Homo sapiens: one gene and its partners. The protein of the gene in region 2 purifies or fractionates together with the protein of the main gene of each other region. This does not show direct contact. Each region holds a gene or a part of one and is shown on either strand. Other genes may lie near its edges.

The links.
Region 1: the proteins of ARHGAP19 (region 2) and TDRKH purify together in Homo sapiens (affinity purification with mass spectrometry; 2 studies listed by BioGRID and IntAct, with this or other methods). This does not show direct contact.
Region 3: the proteins of ARHGAP19 (region 2) and FHIT purify together in Homo sapiens (affinity purification with mass spectrometry; 2 studies listed by BioGRID and IntAct, with this or other methods). This does not show direct contact.

What each region holds. Positions count from the first base shown.
Region 1 is NC_000001.11:151,787,496-151,795,192, reverse strand, and holds the start of TDRKH (tudor and KH domain-containing protein), read left to right. Parts: upstream 1-4,692; 5' UTR 4,693-4,813; intron 4,814-7,697. UniProt on the Homo sapiens protein: Participates in the primary piRNA biogenesis pathway and is required during spermatogenesis to repress transposable elements and prevent their mobilization, which is essential for the germline integrity.
Region 2 is NC_000010.11:97,289,572-97,297,098, reverse strand, and holds the start of ARHGAP19 (rho GTPase-activating protein 19), read left to right. Parts: upstream 1-4,461; 5' UTR 4,462-4,471; coding exon 4,472-4,527; intron 4,528-7,527. UniProt on the Homo sapiens protein: GTPase activator for the Rho-type GTPases by converting them to an inactive GDP-bound state.
Region 3 is NC_000003.12:61,248,453-61,256,208, forward strand, and holds the start of FHIT (bis(5'-adenosyl)-triphosphatase), read right to left. Parts: upstream 3,001-7,756; 5' UTR 2,849-3,000; intron 1-2,848. UniProt on the Homo sapiens protein: Possesses dinucleoside triphosphate hydrolase activity. Cleaves P(1)-P(3)-bis(5'-adenosyl) triphosphate (Ap3A) to yield AMP and ADP. Can also hydrolyze P(1)-P(4)-bis(5'-adenosyl) tetraphosphate (Ap4A), but has extremely low activity with ATP.

The DNA of each region.
Region 1 (7,697 bases), on a different chromosome or scaffold from region 2:
CCCAGCACTTTGGGAGGCTAAGGCAGGTGGATGCCTTGAGCCCAGGAGCTGGAGACCAGCCTGGGCAACATGGTGAAACCCCATCTCTGCTAAAAAGACAAAAATTAGCCGGGTGTGGTGGTGCATGTCTGTAGTCTCAGCTACTTGGGAGGCTGAGGCAGGAGGATCGCTTGAGCCCGGGAGGTGGAGGTTGCAGTGAGTAGAGATCATGCCATTGCCCCAAGCCTGGGCAACAGAGCAAGACTCTGTCTTAAAAAAGAAATAAATTCCTCTTGTGGTTTAACTATAAAGTGTAACCCCCTTTTTGGACTTCATTTCCTCTTTTTTGCCCATCCCACCTTCACTGGAGCTAGAAGAAGATGGACCCATAAAGTAGGTCTGTATTTTTATAGCAACACTGGACACATTCTTCCTTGGATTTGAACTACCATTTTACTTTTTTTAAAGTAAAAATAGCTATAGCAATCAAGGCACTCAATACCTAGGAATAATTTTAATAAGAAGTATGTAAATTCTACATAATGAAAACTAAAATTCTACTGATGGGGTACCAATGACTTGAATGTATAGGAAGATAGGAAGATTCTTATCATACATTCTCCTTTAGATAATCTAAAAATATGTGATTCCAGCCAAAATAACAGTAACAGAATAGAAGAGTAAATTATGGTTCAATATAGCCTCACAATATTATACCACACAGTAGTCAGAATGAAGGGACTAAAACTATACACAATATGGCTGAATCTCACAGAAATAATTTGAACAAAGGAAGCCAGACACAAAAGAGTACATACTCTGTGATTCTCTTTATATAAAAAGCAAGAACAGGCAAAATTAGTTTATGGTATCAGGAGTCAGAAGAGTGGTTGTCCTTGAGAAGAGCAGTGACTGAGAGGGAACACACAAGTGGCTTCTGGGGCACTAGCAATGTTCTGTTTCTTGATCTGCTGCTGGTTACACAAATGTATTCCATTTGTGAAAATTCATCAAGATATATACTTGTCATTTGTGCATTTTTCTGCATGTATATTATAAATTAATTTTTTAAATTGTGGTAAAAAAAAAAACCATAATGTATACAATTTAAAAAATTTTTAGGCCGGGCGCAGTGGCTCATGCCTGTAATCCCAGCACTTTGGGAGGCCGAGGCGGGCGGATCACCAGGTCAGGAGACCGAGACCATCCTGGCTAACACGGTGAAACCCCGTCTCTACTAAAAATACAAAAAATTAGCCAGGTGTGGTGGTGGGCACCTGTAGTCCCAGCTATTCGGGAGGCTGAGGCAGGAGAATCGCTTGAACCAGGGAGTTGGAGGTTCCAGTGAGCCGAGATCGTGCCACTGCACTCCAGCCTGGGTGACAGAGTGAGACTCCGTCTAAAAAAAAAAAAAAAAAAATTAATGATCAATGGAACAAAATGAAAAAAATCCAGAAATAGACCCAAATACATATGGCAATTTGGTATTATAAAGGTAGCATTCAAAAACAATGGAGAAAACATGGGTTATTCAATAAGAAGGATTTGAATAAAACAAAACAAAATTGGATCTCTATCTCACACCTTTACACCAAAATAAATTCCAGATGAATCAAATATTTACATATACAAAGACACTATCAAAGTACTTTTTAAAAAAACATAGGAGCTTTAAGAATAATCTTAAATAGTGGGAGACTTTACTAAAAATTATATGAAACACAGAAGTTGGCCAGGCACAGTGGCTCACGCCTGTAATACCAATACTTTGGGAGGCTAAGGCGGGTGGATCACTTGAGGCCAGGAGTTTGAGACCAGTCTGGCCAACATGGCAAAACTACTCCGAGTCTACTAAAAAATACAAAAATTACCCAGGTATGGTGGTACATGCCTGTAATCCCAACTACTCAGGAGGCTGAGGCACGAGAATCTCTTCAACCTGGGAAGCAGAGGTTACAGTGGGCCAAGATCATGCCACTGCACTCCAGCCTGGGCGACAGAATGAGACTCTGCCTCAAAAAAAGAAAGAAAGAAACCCAGAAATTATCAAAGAAAATATTGATAAATTCAATTACATAAAAATTTTTAACATTTGCAAAGAATAACCATAAACAGGCTGAGGGCAATGGCTCAGGCCTGTAATCCTAGCACTTTGGGAGGCTGAGGCAGGCTGATCACCTGAGGTCAGGAGTTGGAGACCAGCCTCAAAATATGCAATATACATAGAACAAACTTGGAAAAGGGAAAATACTTGTTATATGTATAAACAATATACATAGAACAAACTGGGAAAAGGGACATACTTTTTTTTTTTTTTTTTGGAGATGGGGTCTCGCTCTGTTGCCCAGGCTGGAGTGCAGTGGCAATCTCGGCTCACTGCAACCACCGCTTCCCCAGTTCAAGTGATTCTCCTGCCTCAGTCTCCCAAGTAGCTGGGATTACAAGCGCTTGCCACCATAACCGGCTAATTTTTGTATTTTTAATAAAGACGGGGTTTCAGCATGTTGGCCAGGCTGGTCTTGAACTCCTGACCTCAGGTGATTAGCCTGCCTCAGCCTCCCAAAGTGCTGGGATTACAGGCGTGACCCACCACACCTGGCCGGGGAAAATACTTTTAACTTATATACAAACAGCAAGTATTAAGAAATGACCCTATAACCAATAAAAATATGAACAGAATATAAAAACAGAGAATTTACAAAAAAATTGCCATTTAAATATATTAAAAGATGCTCAACTTTACTTATAAGAGCAATGAAATTTTATCTTGCAATGAGATAGCATTTACACTATCAGATTGTCAAAAATCAGGAAGTTTAACAGCACCAGTGTGCTATCAAACAGGTTCTTTTCATACATTGCTGACAGGAGACAAAATTGGTAAAATTTCCAGGGAAGGCAATTTGGTAATACTAACTAAAATCATTTTCAAAAATTGCTGGTGGGATTAAAATTATAAAAATCTTTGTGGGAGGAAGGGAATTTACAAAATTTTATCTATCCAAATGAAAAAACAATGCACACATTTCTTTAACTTGGCACTTGCATTTCTAAGTATTTATCATACACATATGCAAGAGGGAAATGAAGTATCCTTGCATATCAATCAAATGTTAAAGGACTGGTTAAATATATCTTCATATATCCCTCAGGCATACTATGAAACTATCACTATGAGGCAGATACGTATATGCTGCTACGGAAACATTTCCAGACTGTATCAAAGAAAGTTGCAAAATAGTATGTATGTTATCAACTGGGTTAAAAAAATATATGTGTGTGTATATATATATACACTTTATATATTACACATATACACACGTTAACTATAGAATATCTTGTGAAATTTTTCACAAGAAACTGGTAACCCTAGTTGCCTTGAAGGAAGGAAAATTTATTCACTATAATAACCTTGTTTCTTCTGAATTTTGTAGAATGTAAATGTATTACTTATTCAAAACGCATACACATTTTTATATTAATAGAAAGCAAAACCTGAGGCCCAAAGGCATCTGCCTAATTGACAAAAGATACAACCTTGCGTTCTTTCAGCAAATATTTATTGCTCATCACCTGCCAGGTATTGTGATGGAAGCTAGTGCGGAAGATCCCCCAATGACCAGGATCGCCCGACCCCTGTTCCCAGGGTGAGCCCCTAGCGCGGAGCGGGGACAGGGTGGACCGAGTAGGGCGCAGTGCTGGTCTCGCGAGGCTCCCTGCCCCACGGAGGCAGTAGCAGGACCCAACCGTTCCTAACCGTCCAGGGACCAGGACAGCGTCTGGAATAAAATCTTCCAAAGCAAACTTCCGCCTGCGGAGACCCGCTCCCTTCCTCGCCCCCACAGAAACGCCCCCCGCCACCACCCCCTCCCCCGGCGTAGGCCTTCACGCTGTCGCCTCGACCCGTTTCCTCGAATCCCCAGGGAAGGGTGGGCCCCTGGCGCCCCTATGGCCCGCCGCCCCCTTACCACCGCGGTCGGAGCCCGGGTCTCACTCTCCTGCCGCTGTTTCGGGCCACACCGTGTGTCCGTGCCTCCGCAAAGGAATAGAAGAGTGGGTCCTCGCTCTCTGCGGCGCACCGCTTGTCCCTTGACTTCCTGTCCATCTACAAAGCCTATTTCATGTTTTCCAGAAAGAAAACGTTTTCCGTGTCTCTTGAGTCCTCATCGCCATATGCGGGGCGGGACCGATCTATGCAAAAGATCGCAAGAGAAAACTGATGGAGCATCGCCCATCATGAGGCTGCTCTCCCGATGGTCACTGAGTTGTGTTGTGGCACTGTCTTTGTACAAAGACACCAATTTTTGCGAACGGTGCCACTCATGATTCAACGCTCTCATGCCTCGGTCCCAGCTGCTGGAGCGCAGATTTTCCTCCAAGGGTTAGAAGATAGAAAACTCCTCGGTAATTGGCCTAGAGGTGGTCTGCGAGGACGCCGGGAAGCTTGTAATTGGCTGTTTAATTCTCAGCAGGTGCGGTCTCAGTTAACAACATCTGCTTTTCCTGGATCTTATTGGCTGACAGGGTGGGCCTGCTTTGGATTCCATCCGGGTAATTGGGCAGCGGCTAGCAGCAGCCACGTCGCTCAGGGGCAGCCCGCGGAAGGATTGGTTGTGACGGGAGAAGGCGATTGGTCGGACTGCGAGCAGGGTGTTGATTGGTGCTGTCGGGCTGCGGGGGCGGGGAAGTGGCGGCTGAAGCGCCGCCGGCGGGGCTCACTGTGGTGGTGTGAGTGGGAGGCGGCGGCGCTGGTGGCTGCAGCTGGGGTGAGGCGCGAGGCGGCGCACTCGACGGCTGACTGGAGCAGCGGTAAAGGCGAGGATGGAGACCGAAGGTTTGGGGAGTGGGAAAGACAGGGTCATGGGCAGCCCTGGCCACTAGGAGACGGAAATGCGGGAGCGAGGGAAGGGAGGGGTCTGGCGTGCCCCGGGGCGAGGGAAGGATGTGGGGCGCAGCGGGGGAGTCAGAGCCCTGGGCTGTGAGACGCCGCTCGGGGGCAACTTGACCCACTGGGAACTCGTAACTGTATCTGAGGAAGATGCTCCAGTCACCCGCTTACGCCACAACGGACCCGGTGCGGGAGCGTTTGTGTTTGCCCTGAGTCAGTTCAGACTCTTCCACTGGGCCTTTTTGAGACTGAGAGCTGCCATCCGTATATCACTTTGCCTTTAACTTTCCCCAGCTTTTTCTTTAGTTATCGCTAATAGGATGGCTGTTTACAGTCGTCAGAATAATACATTGGGGTTTTTGTTTTTCCAGTATCCCTCATTCCTTAATCCAGGTATCATCGTGGGGGTTGGCTGGAGACCCCTATTTCAAAGACTGACTTTTAGACCCTTTCCTTGTTTTGAGAGAAAGGGGTTGACACTTTTTTTTTTCTCGTGAATTTAAAATAAACGTACCAAGGATGAGAACATTGAGCTGCTTCGATTCAAGCATGTCACCATGTTGTAGGTTCTTTGTAGGTTCTGGTTATTAGGAGATACTGGAATGAGTTATCTATGCTTTCATGGAGCTAACAATGTGATTTGACTTCTCATCACATCCTATTTGACTCCTGTCATTTTAAATGATAAAGTAAGCCTTAGCGATGCATATCAGATAGTTTTTGGCAATTGTTCAATACAAATGTCAGGAAATTTCAAAGTTAGCTTTCACTGAAAACCATTATCTAACCACATTCCTCACTGAACAATGATCCTCATCTTCTCTTCTTAGCTTCCCCTAGAAACTGTGGTCTTAAGTTCTAGTATTTTCCTCCTTCCCATTCAATTTTTAAGTAATAAAATCAAACACAAGCTAGCAGTCAGTACTATGCAGTTATCCCCGTTTACATTATATTATTTTCCATTTCTCTTTAAGAGAAACTTATAGCTGAAAGGATATGAAAATTGTGAACAAAACCATAGTGACAGATCAAGTAGAGTCTCATTTTTTGAGACATCAGCTGATAACTCAATTAGCACAAATTCATTTGTAATGTTTGAAGAGGAGTTAGTGAAATTTACCTTTTGCTTCAAATAGAAGTCGGCCAAAACCGCACCTATAATCTCAGCTACGCCGGACGACTGCGGGAGTTCAAGGCTGCAGTGAGCTATTATCATTCACTGCATTCCATCCTGGGTGACAGACCAAGGCTCTGTCTCTAAATAAACAACAACAAACTCTCCAATTCATCTGTTCTCCATCTCCATCATTGACACCTGGACTAGGCCCTGATTGGTCTCCTGCAGCCACGGTTGCTGCCTTCAATTCATTCTCCTCACCACGGACACAGATGTTAATCAAGAATGACAAGCATGGCATGTGTTATCAAGGGATATTGGGGATTCTGTGGAAACCCATAGCAATGTAATTCAACCCAGTGTAGGGGGTCGAGATTGAGGGGCCTTGGCTGCAGAGACCCCTCTGCACTTGATCTTGATAGTGTCAGAACTGGAAAACAAAAGTGCTGCTAGTCCTTTGGGCCTCTGTAAAGAGGTGTGATTATGACTGGCCATCAAAACAGACTTATTTCTATTGCACACTGTATTGTGTAGAAATGACTAATGAGCTGTGTGATCTTAGATCAATCCTTTTCTATCCCTTAGCCGCAGTTTCCCAAATTGCAACGTTATTAATGGAATCAAATAAGTTCTGTAGTCCCTTCTAGTTATAAAATCTTGTGATTTCTATGCCCCATAAGCATCAATTATGGCCAGTTTTTAAAAGCAGACAGCATGAAAATACAGATCCAGTTTATTCTTGTTCACAGGGCTAGATTTCAGTTTCCCAAAGCCCTTAAGACCTAAAGACTCCTGCCTGTCAAGATCTTCCTTGCCAGACAGGAAACTCCATGAAGGCAGCTGCCAAATCTATCTTGACTGTTGTGTCCCGAGGGTCAAGCACACATCAGAATTCGATATTTATTGGCTTGAATAAATGTCCATTTAGTGCAGTTCATTCATGTAGTATAGGTTTGCGGAAGAAAAGTGAGTTGTATTTTAATGAGATGATTTTCAACTATACACCATCTAAGAAATAAACCTTAAGGTTCTAGCTACTTTCAACTGTCGCATTGACCAAGAATTTATACAGTTGTCCCTCCCTTCGTTATTTGCAGGGGATTGGTTCCAGGAACCCTGCAGAACCCAAATCCATAGATGCTCATGTCCCTTGTATAAGATGCATATTATTTGTATATAACCTACACACATCTTGCCCTATACTTTTTTTTTTTAAACCCCTTGAGACAAATTCTCGCTCTGTTGCCCAGGGTGGAGTGCAGTGGTGTCATCAGTTTACTGCAGCTTCCACCTCCTGGGCTCAAGCCATCTCCCACCTCGGCCTCCTGAGTAGCTGGAACTACAGGTGTGCAACACCACGCCTAGCTAATTTTTTTTTTTTTTTTTTTTTTTTTTTTTTTGTAGAAACAGAGTCTCACTATGTTGCCCAGGCTAGTCTTGAATACTTGGTCTCAAGCAGTCCTCCTACCTTAGCCTCTCAAAGTGCTGGGATTAACAGGCATGAGCCACTGTGCCCAGCCTGTTTTGGTGTTTATGTTTCCTAGACTATGAATATTTCCAAGTAGAAATTCTTCTTCCTCCTTCTGTCCCCAACGTGCTCAGCACACAAGAAAGAGCTAGCACTATTTAACCAAGATGCATTAATAATGGAAACAAGCTTTGCACTTTAGTGGTCATATAAGAAAATACCTAAGCCAGGCGCAGTGGCTCACG
Region 2 (7,527 bases):
GTATCTTTAGTAGAGACAGGGATTTCACCATGTTGGCCAGGCTGGTCTTGAACTCCTGACCTTATGATCCACCTGCCTCAGCCTCCCAAAGTGCTGAGATTACCAGCGTGTGCCACTGCGCCTGGCCGAGTTTAGCATTCTTAATATTCATCATGTCGTCTCCAACATTGATCTAATCTTAGTATGTTCTAGACACTGTGCTACTAAGCAGCTTTTCAGAAATTATCTTTTTTTTTTTTTTTTTTTTTGGGACGGAGTTTCGCTCTTGTTGCCCAGGCTGGAGTGCAATGGCGCGATCTCGGCTCACCACAACCTCTGCCTTACGGGTTCAAGCGATTCTCCTGCCTCCGCCTCCCAAGTAGCTGGGATTACAGGCATGTGCCACCATACCTGGCTAATTTTGTATTTTTAGTAGAGACGGGGTTTCTCCATGTTAATCAGGCTGGTCTCTAACTCCCGACCTCAGGTGATCCGCCCGCCTCGGCCTCCCAAAGTGCTGGGATTACAGGCATGAGCCACTGCGCCCAGTCTCAGAAATTATCTTATTTTACTCTTCACCATACCCTTGTGAGACTTATTATCCTCATTTTACAGAAGAGGAAATGGAATCAGAAAGCTAAGTAACTTATCCAGGGTCACATAGCTAGGAGCTCTGGAGCCAGGATTTGAACTTGGGTTTATTAACTCCAGAGCCCATGTAACTACTGTGCTGTATTTTCCCAAACATTATATAAACATGTGATTTGGCCAGGTGTGGTGGCTCATGCCTGTAATCCCAGCACTTTGGGAGGCCGAGGTGGGTGGATCACCTGAGGTCAGGAGTTCGAGAGCAGACTGGCCAATATGGCAAAACCCTGTCTCTACTATAAATACAAAAACTAGCCGGGTGTGGTGGTGGGTGCTTGTAGTCCCAGCTACTCGGGAGGCTGAGGCAGGAGAATTGCTTGAACCTGGGAGGCGGAGGTTGCAGTGATCCGAGATCATGCCACTGCACTCTTGCCTGGGTGACAGAGTGAGACTCTGTCTCAAAAAAAAAAAAAAGGTGCGATTCTTCATTAAAAAAAATGAACCAGAAATATAGTTTTGTGGCGTTCCTCCTAGTTGCAGTGGTAATACTTTAAAGTTTTGAACAGTTTTTCTTTTGTGAAAGCATCAATTTCATTCAATCCATCAGTCCATGTGCTGGGTGTCATGGGGCTAGAAACAAAACTAGTTCTTATTTTGAGGGAAGGGCAGAATTTGAGCCTTGGGTTCCTTGCTTTGTATATATAGCAATTAACACAACCTGGATTTTCTTTTCTTTCTTTCTTTTTTTTTTTTTTTGAGACATAGCCTCAACCTATTGCCCAGGCTGGAGTGTAGTTGCACGATCTCGGCTCGCTGCAACCTCCATCTCCTGGGTTCAAGTGATTCTCCTCCATCAGCCTCCCGAGTAGCTGGGATTATAGGTGTGTGGCAACACGCCCGGCTAATTTTTGTATTTTTAGTAGAGACAGGGTTTCACCATGTTGCCAGGCTAGTCTGGAACTCCTGACCTCGGGTGATCCACCCGCCTCAGCCTCCCAAAGTGCTGAGATTACAGGTGCGAGCCACCTCGCCTGGCCTTTTTTTCTCTTTTCTTTTCTTTTTGAGACAGTCTCACTCTGTTGCCGAGGCTGGAGTGCAGTGGCACATGATCTTGGCTCACTGTAACCTCCACTTCCTGGTTTCAAGCGATTCTCCTGCCTCAGCCTCCTGAGTAGCTGGGATTACAGGTGTGTGCCACCATGCCCGGCTATTTTTTTGTATTTTTAGTAGAGATGGGATTTCACCATTTTGGTCAGGCTGGTCTTGAACTCCTGACCTCAAGTGATCTACCTGCCTCGACCTCCCAAAGTGCTGGGATTACAGGCGTGAGCCATCACACTTGGCTTCTTTTTCTTTTTTTGTTTTTTGTTTTTTGTTTTTTTGAGACAGGGTCTTGCTCTGTCAGGGTGGAGTGCAGTGGCATGAACATGGCTTGCTGTAGTCTCAATCTCCTGGGCTCAAGTGATCCCAGCCTGGATTTTCTAAGGCTGTCTGAGGTTCAATGAAAAATTTCACTGATACGTTTGCTAAATTTTATGTTTCTTTCCATGTATTTGCTCAATAAACATGATTTGTTAAACATCAAACTAAATAAGACTGGGCATGGTGGCTCACACCTGTAGTCCCAGCACTTTGGGAAGCCTAGGTGGGTAGATCACTTGAGTTCAGGAGTTCGAGACCAGTCTGGCCAACGTGGCAAAACCCATCTCTACTCAAATACAAAAATTAGCCAGATGTGGTGGCACACACCTGTAATCCCAGCTACTTGAGTGTCTGAGGCTGGAGAATTGCTTGAACTCGGGAGGCAGAGGTTGCAGTGAGTGGAGACCATGCCACTACACTCCATCCTAGGCAACAGAGTGAGACTCTGTTTCAAACAAAAAACATAAAAAACATCAAACTAAATGCAATTTTATTTGGACACATTTATCAAACTTTTATTTTCTTTTTTAGAGAAAGGGTCTCATTCTGTCGCACAGCCTGGAGTTCAGTGGCACAATCATAGCTCACTTTAACCTTGAACTCCTGGGCCCAGGTGATCCTCCTGCCTCAGCCTCCAAAAGTGATGGGATTATGGGTGTAGGCCACTGTGCCTAGCCCTTATCAAACTTTTAGTATTAATTCATCAATTGAAAAAAATCTATTAGAGTATATGATTTGATTTTTTATTTGGATATAATAGTTTGAGGACTTGCTTATATTTTTCAAAAATATTTATTGGACAGCCATTATGTGCCAGAAACTGTGGGGAGCAAAATAAATATAGTCTCTGCCCACTTGTGGCAGGAAGCCTAGCTGGGAACCCTCACATGAAATAAATAGTCACACAAATGACTATGTAATTGTGAGTTGTGATATGAACTGTGAAAGAATAGTACAGAGTTCTTTGTGAAAGTTTACTGAGGGAATTGATTTATACAATGGGGGTCATGGAAGATCTTTGAGCCAGTGACATTTAAGCTTCGACCTGAAAGCCAAAAAAGTGGAAAAATGGACGAGCCAGAAAAAGCAACATGTGCAAAAGCCCTAAGACAGTTCAGAAAGTGAAGCATGTGCAGTACAGTTTAGTAAAAAGGAGGCAGAGTGCAGGGAGAGCCCCAGGTGGCAGGATATCAGAAGGATCAATACAGAAATTCCCGAGAAAAGTCCAGCATAGGAAAACAATATGGAAAAACAAAAAACAACAATGCTCAAAATTTACAATGTTCTCACATATGTTGCCTCAGTTAATCCCTAGGAGAAGTGTGTGCCGCAGGGAGGACAAGGATAATTATGGTTATTCCTACCATTGAGGATTAAAGTTTAGTTTGGGACAAAGTCATGCAGCTTTTGGTTCCATGGTTCATATCACAAGGCAAACTCTGTGGGTTCTCTGGGAAGTTGGAAGGGAGTGAATGTATTGAAGCAGAAATGACCGACTCCAGCCTGGCCAACAGGGTGAAACCCCATCTCTACAAAAAGTACAAAAATTTGCCCTGTGTGTTGGTATGCTGCAATATTGTACTGTGCTCCAGCATGGGAGACAGAGGGAGACCTTATCTCAAAAAAAAAAAAAAAAGAAAGAAATAAAGGAAGAAAGAAATGACCTATGGCTAGGGCTATGCTGAGTATCTGAAGAAAGAAGGCTTTGAACTATACGTTTAAAAGCAAGTACTTCTAGGTTGCCACTCCCTGCCTGCACTTGAGGGATTTATCTCTGGGTCAAGACAGAGAACGAGTCTTGCATTAAATTACATTAAATTAAATGAATTAATTTATGGCTGGGTGCAGTGCCTCATGCCTGTAATCCCAGCACTTTGGGAGGCTGACATAGGAGGATTGCTTGAGCTCAGGGGTTCGAGACCAGCCTGGGCAACATGGTGAAACCCTGTCTCAACAGAAAAAAAAAATTAAAAAAATTGTAAAAAAAAATTATTTATTTTCAACTTTTATTTTAAATTTAGGGGGTACATGAGTTGGTTTGTTATCTGGGTATATTGTGTGATGCTGAGATATAGGGTACGGAGTCTTGCATTTTAGAAAGTGATGAGTCACTTTCAAAGTTGACAGTTCTATAATTCCCTGATTTACATATCAGGACAAAATTTGAGCATAGGCTGGTGATTTCTGACTTGAACCTAAAGGTCTGTGGAATCGGAAGGGTTCATCAAAATGAGAAACTACAACTCCCGGCAGGCCTCGGGGCTGGGTCTTCTTCCCCGCCCCTCCCTCTTTTTCCGCCAGGGCTGGGAACGACCAATGACGGTTAGTCATTTGAATAGACCAATAATATATTAAACGGTTCAGGTTGAGGAGGGGCGGTCGAGTCATCCAATCGCACGGAAGAGGTGAAAACATATTAGCCAATCCAAATATGTGGGGGCGGGACGTAAGGTGGGGCGGTGAAAGAAGTTTGCTGACGAAGATGGCGACTGAGGCACAGAGTGAAGGGGAGGTGCCAGCCCGCGAATCCGGCCGGAGGTGAGCTGAGTTTGGTCCAGTTTCCTGGGAAACGCGGCCTTGGGCTGGTAGTCCTGCCGCCTTTGCCTTGGGTCACGGAGGCGCACGGTTCGGGCTTTGTTTCTTTCTCCCACGGCGTTTCTCATCGTCGCGCCTGCGGGGGCTGAGGCGCGGGGGTCGGGCCTGGGCGCTGGACTCCAGCCAAACCCCCCGCTCGGTCCTGCCGGTGCCCGAGGGGGCTCCTCCCGCTGCGCTGGCTGCAGACGTCCAGCTGGGGGTGGCAGCGCTGATCGCTTTGGCGCCGAGACACCTCTTGATGGCGAGGAAACGGAAGTCCAGGGCTGGTTAGCGAATTCCTCACTGTTGCACACAGCGCTTCACATCTTCTCCGAGGCACTTTGTGCGTTCAGGTCCGAGCAAGGATTTGAGTGTCAATTAGAAACAGTGTTGAGTCCTTGGGCCAGTTTTTAAACCTCTCTCGACTTCAGTTTCTTCATCTGCAAAGGGACGTGAGGATGCCTATTTCCAAGTGTCAAGATTGAATAAGACAATCCATTTAAAGCTAGCACTGAGTTTAGCCGATAATGACAACTCTACGCAATAGATTTTCTTCTTCCTAGTAGAACAGCTAAGGAGCAGATGGGAGAGGGATCTGTAGTCCAGGACATCATGACTTTATTTCCACAGGATGTTCTTTCCTAAACAGCCACACCGAGATTTAGCGTTTTCAGGAGAGAATTTCGAGGTGGTGTTGCCTTAGCCTTGAGACCTAAGTTGTCTTAATTGATTACAATTTTGTTTTTGGTGTAATTCAATAGATTGAGTTTATTTACGTTGCCTCAGTGTAACTCAGTAAAATACTTCGGTTTGGCGTCTTTTGGTTCCATTTGTACCGAATAAGAGATTCCAAGAATCTTGGGAAACTAATAACTTTGTGACTCGGCTTCTTCCTGAGCCCAGATGAGCGTGGTTGAGTGTGTTATTTAAAATATCATACGGGGCCGGGCATGGTGGCTTACGCCTGTAATCCCAGCACTTTGGGAAGCCGAGGGGAGCGGATCACCTGAGATCAGGAGTTCGAGACCAGCCTGGCGAACATGATGAAAGCCCGTCTCTACTAAAAATACAATAATTAGCCGGGTGTGGTGGCGGGCGCCTGTAGTCCCAGCTACTCAGGAGGTTGAGGCGGAGGTTGCAGTGAGCCCAGATGCGCCATTGCATTCCACCCTGGGTGACAGAGCAAGACTATGTCTCAAATAAATAAATAAAATAAAATATGATATGGAAGAGTTTTCCACTCTTTTTTGTTTTGTTTTGTTTTTGTTTTGCAGTTGCAAGATTTCATAGAGTGAAATAGAGTGAAAACACAGCTCCCACACAAAGGGAGGGGACCCAAAGTGGGTGGCCGTTGCTGGCTCTAATGCCTGGGTTTATATCCTGATCCTTGTCCCTCCCGCTGTGCTCTCAGGCAAGAGATGATTGGCTATTTCTTTACCTCCTGTTTTTGCCTAATTAGCATTTTAGTGAGCTCTCTGATTGGTTGGGTGTGAGCTAAGTTGCAAGCCCCGTGTTTAAAGGTGGATGCGGTCACATTCCCAGCTAGGCTCAGGGATTCTTAGTTGGCCTAGGAAATCCAGCTAGTCCTGTCTCTCAGTCCCCCTTCTCAACAGGAAAACCCAAGTGCTGTTGGGGAGATTGGCCGATGACCGCCCTAACTGCTTCCTGCTGAATTGGGGCGTAGTAGGGGTTGTGCAGTTGAGATTTCCTCGGGAGGGTTGCCTTCGATGTCATTAACATCGGAGCATGGGCTAGCAGGCTGTTCCAGGGGTCCGCGGTGGATCTTAGTCATAGACTGCATCTGGGGCTCCATTTGAAGAATGATTTGTAGTTTTACAGTTTCAATTCTGGAAGAGACAAACGCTTTGGATGCCCCTTCGTGGTCACCAAAATGTTACCGGGGGTCCTTGCTCACAGAGCTCCCAAGATGGTGGCCAGCCGCTTCTAAGATGATGGCGGGCCGCTTCCAGGATGGTGGCAAGCCTAGTGTTCTCTGACCTGGGGTTCTCAGCCTCACCGATTCCAAGGAATGGAATCTTGGGCCATGGGGTGAGTGTTACAGCTCTATTAGAAGCTGTGGGTCACGGAAGAGAACCGTGGAACCCAGTGACTGGTGTTCAACTTGATTAGGACGAACCCAGGCACTTAGCCATGCAGGAACAATGGCAAGCCTTTAGCACGATCGGGAGTGGCAATGGGAGTCTCACTGGATCAGGAGCACAGCAGACACCCTGCCAGATCCGGAGGGATGGGAGTCAGCAGCGGGATGGGAGTCAGCGGCGGGTCTGCGACAGCGGCAAACAGCAGTGGTAGAGGGCGAGCAAAAGCTCAGCTCCAGCCATAACAAACATAGACCAGAAGAGTGCAGTTGCAAGATTTAATAGAGTGAAATAGAGTGAAAACAGAGTTCCCATACAAAGGGAGGGGACCCAAAGGGGGTTGCCCGAGTTTTCCACTCTTGAAGCTGCCTATAAATGGTTGATCATTTTTTTTTTTTGCCCGGGAACTGTAGAGGTGATTGATACATTTGATTAGATCATCCTTCATCCAGTTCTTTAAAAATTTCTAAATTTTGGTGAAAATCTGAGGACAAATAAAATACTATTCCATAGCAAGAGTAGTTTGAATTTATTTTCTTTTCTTTTCTTTTTCTTTTCTTTCTTTCTTTCTTTTTTTTTTTTTTAACACAGGGCTCCTTCTGTTGCCCAGGCTGGAGTGCAGTGATACGATCACAGGTCCCTGCAGCCTCAACCTCCTGGGCTCAACTGGTCCTCCCTCCTCAGCCTCCTGAGTAGTTGGGACTACAGGCACGTGCCACTATGCCCAGCTAGTGTTTTTGTTGTTGTTGTTGTTTTGTTTTTTTGTAGAAACCGGGGTCTTGCCATGTTGCCCAGGGTGGTCTTGAGTTCCTGGCATAAGTGATCCTCCTGCCTTGGGCTCCCAAAGTGCTGGGATTATAGGTGT
Region 3 (7,756 bases), on a different chromosome or scaffold from region 2:
TATCTGTGAATACATAATTGAAAGGGCCAATATGTCTTCCAAAATGAAAGTCACAACTTGATAGATTTCTGAGAGTTCATATTAGAGGGTCAGATTTTAACATGTGAATGCAAACATAGTGTCAGAATTTGTTCTCAAGTGTCTGAAAGAACAAAAGAGAAAAGAGTAATGGGAGCCAAAACCAGACTAACTTCCAAAATAGAAACAGAGCATGTTGAAGTTGCATAAACACACAAATAAAGATGGGGACACAAAAACATTTCCTAAAGCATTCTATCAAAGGCTGCAGGAAAAAGGCCAAGACAAGGATACCAAATAGAAAAGCATAAGCCTAAAAAGGTTATCCACACTACTGTGAGGACTCCAGAAACCTGCCTTCTTGCAGAAACGGGATACTTTTGACATGAGGGCATGAGATGAAGATTGCAGACTACTTCGTAACACACTCTCCTCATTTATAAAATAAGAGTTAGATTAGATTATTTATAAGGTCCTTCCAGTCTGAATGCATTAAGTCCTTATCATCTATGTGGTCCTTGCACCTTAAGAGAGATGACCATATAAAGAAGCTCAAAAAACATTTGTTGAATTCATGAAGTATTACAACCTTACCAATAATAAATAAGATAATTTATAACAATTGGTCCTGGTCTGTGGCCTTGAAAGAGCAAATTAGAGGAGAAACCATTATCTAAAGAGCTACACATCTGGTGTTCCTGCTAGCTGACTGCTGGTGGAATGAAAATAACCCTGGACTTGAAAATAAGATGCTTGGTTCTAGTCTAATCTCTGACACAAACCAACTGTGTGACCTTGGGCAAACTGCTTTACCACCTGGGCCAGTTTCCTAATCTCTAAAATAAAGGTATTCTAAAACTATATACATATATATATGGAATCTTTATTATAGGCCAAGAAGTGTTCCAAGATCTTTGCATTAGAATTAAATGATCTCAAAGGTTTTTGCAGCTCAAATGTTTAGTATCTAAGTACAGAGGCAGCATGGTATAATTAAAAGATTCCAAATTCTGTAGCCAGAAAGGTTGGACTCCTCCTCAGCTCTGTAAGGTAAGGTCTTTCTCTAAGCAGAGACTGTTAAGCAGAAGGGCTTACAGTCTCAGTCCTTTTATTCACCAGTGTTTTAACTTGAACAAGTTACTTAACTTTCCTAGCCTTAGTTTTCTAATCTGTAAAGTTGATATAAAAATGGTTCTCACTCTCATATAGCTTTTAAGAGGATTAAATTATAACACATATATTTTATTGAATATATATTATATTGCTAGCTGTGTAATCATGGGCTATCTTCTCAAGTTTTTTCTCATATACAAATGGGAAATGTAGTATTAAAAAGAGATCATGTGAACAGGTTCTAAATGGTCAAGTGTTAGTGGTTTTGGAAGCATGTACGTTAATACTTGGAACACCGTATACAACAATCCCATATCTAACACTTAGAACAGCATATGCAATCAATAACAACACACACACACACACACACACACACACACACACACACACACACACACACACACACAAACCCTAGACTTCTTTCTTTACTAAATATTTCTAGTCCAGGTTGCAGCAGGTGGACACAGGCCGGCAGCCATGAACGCAGGTCCACATGGGAGTTGTAGTTCCGAGTCAAGCGGCTGCTCTACAGAACGGCTAGAAGCGAGACTTCGTCTCCCAGGAGACATCTCGCCGTGCAAAATGGCACGCCACGAGGTGGAGTACCTGCCCGACGAGAAACAAGAGGCGGGACTGCAACTCCCAGAAGCCTCCGCGGCCAAGGCCTCAGGCCGCAGGCTGAAGCCAAGGAGGGAGAGTTCAGGTAGATCCGGCTTAACATCAGGTGCGAGTAGGGACCACCCTTGGTAGTCTGGGCCCGGCCCAGGTCAGAACCTTACTAAAACAACCACTGTGAGTATTTTCTATTGGTCCCAGCACATTTCTGAGAGACCAGAATAATAATAGCAGTAAATCTGCAAGTGGTAAACTTTCACAAGCATAACCTCAATTTAGATTTCGGCTTCAGGCAACATCCTTTGGCCACTTGACCTGGGAGCATTGAGCTCCTTGTTTCCCAGATAAGCGCTGTGAGTGGCTGTTCCAAGGTAACACAGCGAGGGCAGAATGTGAGCCTACAGAGAAATCTGCAGATGCATCTCAAGTTCCACTAACCTGCCTCCTTACCCCCCACCACCACCAACTTGGATATACCTTTAAAATTCCCCCCTTTGACGCTAAAAATAAAAACAACAACCATAAAATAAGTGTAAGAAAGTCCGACCAAGTACCGATGAGTTCTCCCACAACAATAAATTCGATGCCTCTTTGCCTGTTTTTGAAGTAGTAATGTAAAATTATCTCCCAAAATGCTGCCTTCTCTATACTCCGGTTTGCTCCTGTCCTGGGCACGTGTTCAGCAACCCCTTAGGGGAATCCAGAGCTGCGTGTTTAACACAGACCTGTTGGGACGGATTTTCGCTACTTGTCTATGAAACTGACGAACCATCCCAAAACGGCGGGTGCCGACTACACCCCCAGAGCCAAGAGCTGTGGCGTCCCCGGACCCGCTGGCGTGGCCCCGTGCCTCAGTTTCCCCAATGTATAAACACGGTGGAGGAGGAACGGGTTAGGGCTAGGGTCGGTGCTTGGGAATTGGGGGGCCCGAGTCCCCACCCTGAGACCCTCGTGGGGCGGAAGAGTACTCGGGACAGAAGCCCACCGCCCCGTGAGCGGCGCCGGCCCCACTGGGCTCCGGGGTGATGACCTGACGCGCGTGGAAACCCAGACCCGCGCCCCAGAAACAGTATTCCACTTGGGCTTGCCTCCCCGCCCCTACCTTCCAGGATGTTGACAGCTGGGAATGAAAGGCAGAGGGAGGGAGCGCGGGGCCGGAGCGCCGCCTGGGAGTGTGCCCACTGGGTGGCCGCCTGAGGGACCCGGGAACAGAGGGCAAAAAGTCCTGTGACCGGACAGAGCAGAGCGGGGACTGCAATTCCCAGAAGACCCCACGGTAGGGGCGGGACCCAAGATGGCCGCTTGTCTGGGGACAGGAGCGGAGGCCAATACGCGCAGAGCATGCGCCTACGCCGGGCCAATTGAAAGCCATAGTGACAGTAACCCTGATTCAGGGGCGGGAAACACTGACCACAGAAGACAAGTTGAGGTGAGAATCCCCTTACAAGGGGGTTTGGGGCATAAATCGCACAATCTTTGGCTTTTTCTAACTAGAAAAAGAAACATGATTCTTTTCACGTGTAACGAAAGGCTGTACCGCACTTTTGCTTTTTTCTTTCCTCCCAAAACGCGTTTAACTATCCCTTCACGACTTCCCACTGGCTGGATTTCTTTTCGTTTCATTTCCCCACTCTGGATCTTTCTGGATTCCTTAAGCCTTCTTTTCTTTATGTGTCTCTCAGAAACACAGACTTGCAGTCCCTGGCTTGATCCATCAAATAATGTGGTCATTTACGACTACGCTCAGCCCTCCCTGGCATCCTAACAAAATTGCACCACATGCGCCCCTTCTCTTTTCCTTTCTGTCTTTTCTGTGCTGTTTTTCTCCTTAGCATTTGTCGTTACGAAGCATTGTATAAAATTTACGTATTTATCTTTTTTACCATCTTACTTTCTCACTAGAATGCAAGATCCCTGCAGATGTGGATTTTTGTTTTGGTCACTGTAGTCTTTCTAGCACCTAGAAAAGTGCCCAGCACATAGTAAATACACCGTATTTTCAATAATTGAACGAAATCTAGAGTGACCTTTCTCCCCTAGTCTCCCTTTCTCTGGTGCAGATCAACCCGTTTCTGACCACCATGGTTCCTTGTGCTTGTTCCCCTGTTTAATCCAAAATCATTATTGATGTATTCTGTGCCAAATGCCATGTGGGTGCTGGAGAAATCATTGATTCAGACCCAATTCCTAACCTCAAAATGCTCTGTCTAGTGACGTATGAAAAGTAAAATTAATTTTACAATAAATGCAATTACAAATTGCAGAACACCTACGTAATTTTCACAAGGTCATGCAGCTCCTAAGCAAGGACTAGATTCCTGGCTGCAGACTCTTGCCATTACATCGGGAAAAACAAAGAGCAGTTTTCTCTCAGACAAACACTAAGATAGGTCCCCATTTTCCTTAGCACCATTTCCTTTCTCTGTCTCTCACTTTTTTATTTGGCCTGATTCATTACATGCAGGCAATTACATCAAGTCTTAGATCTCTCATTATTTCTAATATTTGAATCCCATGGAGAGTAGCAAGGTGTCCTACAAAGTGTCCTGGTGTGAAAATCTGATGTCCTTGGAAGCTTGACTCTCAGAGAATGTCACATTGGATTATAGTTCATCACACAGACACCATGGCCACATAAAATATTATCAAATTGTGAATAACAAAGTGAAATTGAAAAAAAAAATATAGTTAAAACAGCAGGAATGTGAGCAATATATGTACAGACTGATTTTGTGCATAGAGATTAAAACACCTGTTCAGGCTTCCTAGCCTAATCTTCTGTCAATTTGGGGTCATTTCCTGTAATACAATTCTTTGTTGCTTTTATGAGCACAGACTTAGCTCAGCAGTCCCAGCTATTCTCAAGCTGATCGACATGAGAGATTTCAACACATGTGTCAGCAGCCAGACTAAACGTGGAAGAAAATCAGAAGCATTTGAAACTGTAAAGCTCAATAACTTTCCTCCTCCTGAGAAAGCATCAGCCTATAATCATTACATCTTCTACTTAGCAGTCAAAAGGCAAATGTCATGAACATACTCAGGGTCTAAACAGTGGTGTCTAATGATTATTGCACTGTTGTCAGATAGCCTAATATGAGCACATAGGTATTACTTCAGCTGTGGATAATGCTGACTGCTGGGCTCAAGGTCACCCACGACCTTGAGCAACAGATACATTCACAAAGAGCATGAAGACATAGAACTTGCATTGGATTCAGGACCTTCAAGTGCCAAGACAATCAGTGGGAGGTTACTGTCTGATCTGCAACTTGACTGAATTAATAACCACCTTAGTATGGGTTCTCCCAGAAGCAGATCTGGAGACAGGTATTCAAGAGCAAGTATTTTATTTAGGAGGTTATCGCAGGAAACACCAGTAAGAGACTAAGAAAGTGAAATAGGGAAGAGAAGACCAAAAAGATGCCTTATCTAGCACATTACCGCTAGAGGCACCCAGAACTTAATCCTCCTAGAAATCTCTGGGAAACAATATGGAACATGTACCTTAGACTGAGTGATTCCACCAAGAGGACAAGATAACTGGGTTGTTTAAACACCAACTACCGTCAGTCAATGATTGGGGGCAGCTTTCAGGGATTATTAAGACCCTGGCTTGTCTGCAATGCTCCAAGAGTAGACAGAGTTGCCTCAGTGGCCACAGAAAGCCAGAGATAGAAGAATTAAGAGTCACATTGGTATACGCTGAAATAGTAAGGGAATATAGCATACTGGCGGGGCACCAATAATATCTGCTACAGGTGGCTTTGGTTTACCACAAGCTCATGTCACTGAAACTAACAGAATAAGAATAAGTCAGAAACTAAGTAGATAAATACAAAAAGCCCAAGCAGCCTACCACCTTCTATCACTCATCAACAATTAAGATAGATTGTACTTTCTAAATCCTCACTAAGACATACAAACCAAACAATAGCAGAAGCCTCATTTACACTGGGGAATAGGAACTCTTTGGGCATTTAAGGAGGGTGCTTTGGGAGCTTTGGGGCATGGTAGTGCAAGGAGAAAGAAGATTAAGAAAAGGGGAAAAGGACATTTAAAGAAACGTGTTAAAAACATTGTGTTTTTCATTTTATGGTCTTGAAACATGAGTAAAGGGTGTGGATATTTTAAGAAGGTAGCATCAAGATCTGGGTGACTTTTAGACCCAGAAGACAATTTTGTGAAAGACTTCTGTGGATTGTGCCATTATAGTACTTCTTCATAGCAAATATCTTTACTTGAAATTATACCCACATTTATTTGTCCTTTTGTTTATCATCTGTCTCCTTCAAACAAAAGGTAAACTCCATGAAGGTAAGAACTTTGTTTTCAGGCCAGGCACGGTGGCTCATGCCTGTAATCCCAGCACTTTGGGAGGCCGAGGTGGGCAGATCACGAGGTCAGGAGTTTGAAACCAGCCTGGCCAACATGGTGAAAACCCATCTCTACCAAAAATACAAAAATTAGCCAGGCATGGTGGCTCACACCTGTAGTCCCAGCTACTTGGGAGGCTGAGGCAAGGAATCACTTGAGCCTGGGAGGCAGAGGCTGCAGTGAGCCAAGATTGTGCCACTGCACTCCAGCCCAAGTGACAGAGCGAGACTCCATCTCAAAAAAAAAAAAAAAACAAACTTTATTTTTGTGTTATTCATTAGTCAGCACTCAATAAATATGTGGTTAACAAATGACTATATTATGGCTACAAAAAGTAAACAGGGTAAGTACTAGAAGAGCCTGACATTTGTACCATTTGTATCATTCAACTAAATCATAAAGGTAAGAGGCACTGGTAACTACACCATAACCCCCCATTATCACGAAGCTTGGGGCCATCCTTGTGTGTAGAAAAACTGGAGGTCACATAATGTTCTCTGGCTTTAGTCAAACACTTCCAACAGCATCCTCTTCAAGCACACATGGCCTACAAGGAAATCTTTACCATGGAAACAGAATTTCAAAACTAAAAAGTCCGTAGAGGTCAAAGAGTTCAACCCTCTGCATAATTCATCTTAGCCATATGTTACAGGTCATAATTCAGACCTTCAGACAAGAATCTTTATTTATTTGTAATTTATTACAAATTTATTTGAAAAAATAATATCTAATACAAAAATATTATATTAGAAAAAAGGAGAAACAATGCATTATTTTTGTAATACAAAGTATAGAAAGTTTGGGAAACTCAGTCGTACCCAAATGCTCTAGTCTGCTTCACACATTTCTTAACCTGTGATCATTAAGCTTTTTGGCTACCATTGGAGAATTCTGGTTGCCAGTAAGAGCCATCTTATGATGTGCTGAAAATTTTCTAAATTTTTCACCTATGTTTTTTTTTTCTGTCATCTTATTTCTCCCTTTGTTGTTCTGTGTTAAATGTATTCCTTGGGTAGATTTGTTCATCAGATATTTAGAGATCTGTCTATTCCCTATAGCTTGTGAACATATGCATGCTGTCTGCTTTTAACTGTGCCTCATAAATAATCACACTTAATCCTTCTTAGTGCCATCTTTTGCAATCATCTTCCAGTTACCTAGAACATAAGGTGCATAAAACTAAGCTCAGTGTCCAAGCTGTGATCTCAGTAGGGTGGCTCAGAATTAAGCGATGATTTTTCATCACTCTCTTTCAAGAAATTATGGCTCTAAACTTATTGCCCTGGTTTCACTGCAGCTTTAAAGACATTTCATCATTCTAGAAGATAAGACCCATTAAAAGCATTTTCTAAAAACTAAAAAATATAGTAGAGGAGAGTGCAGTTTCAATTCAGTTCCGTGTTTTATATATTGAGGGTTACTCTGCGAGCCATTGTGTTAGAGGCTGTAATTCACAAGTGAATAAGACACAGTCTCTGGAGTGGTACGGTAGTGAATACTGTAAGCATGTAAACAGATGAGCAAATCAATGTGATTCCCCATATGAGCCAATGCCAATGCCAGAATGAGTGGATTCTGCCACCTATAGTGAAGGAGAGACAGGGGTTCTGGGCAGAGGCAACAGTACATGGCA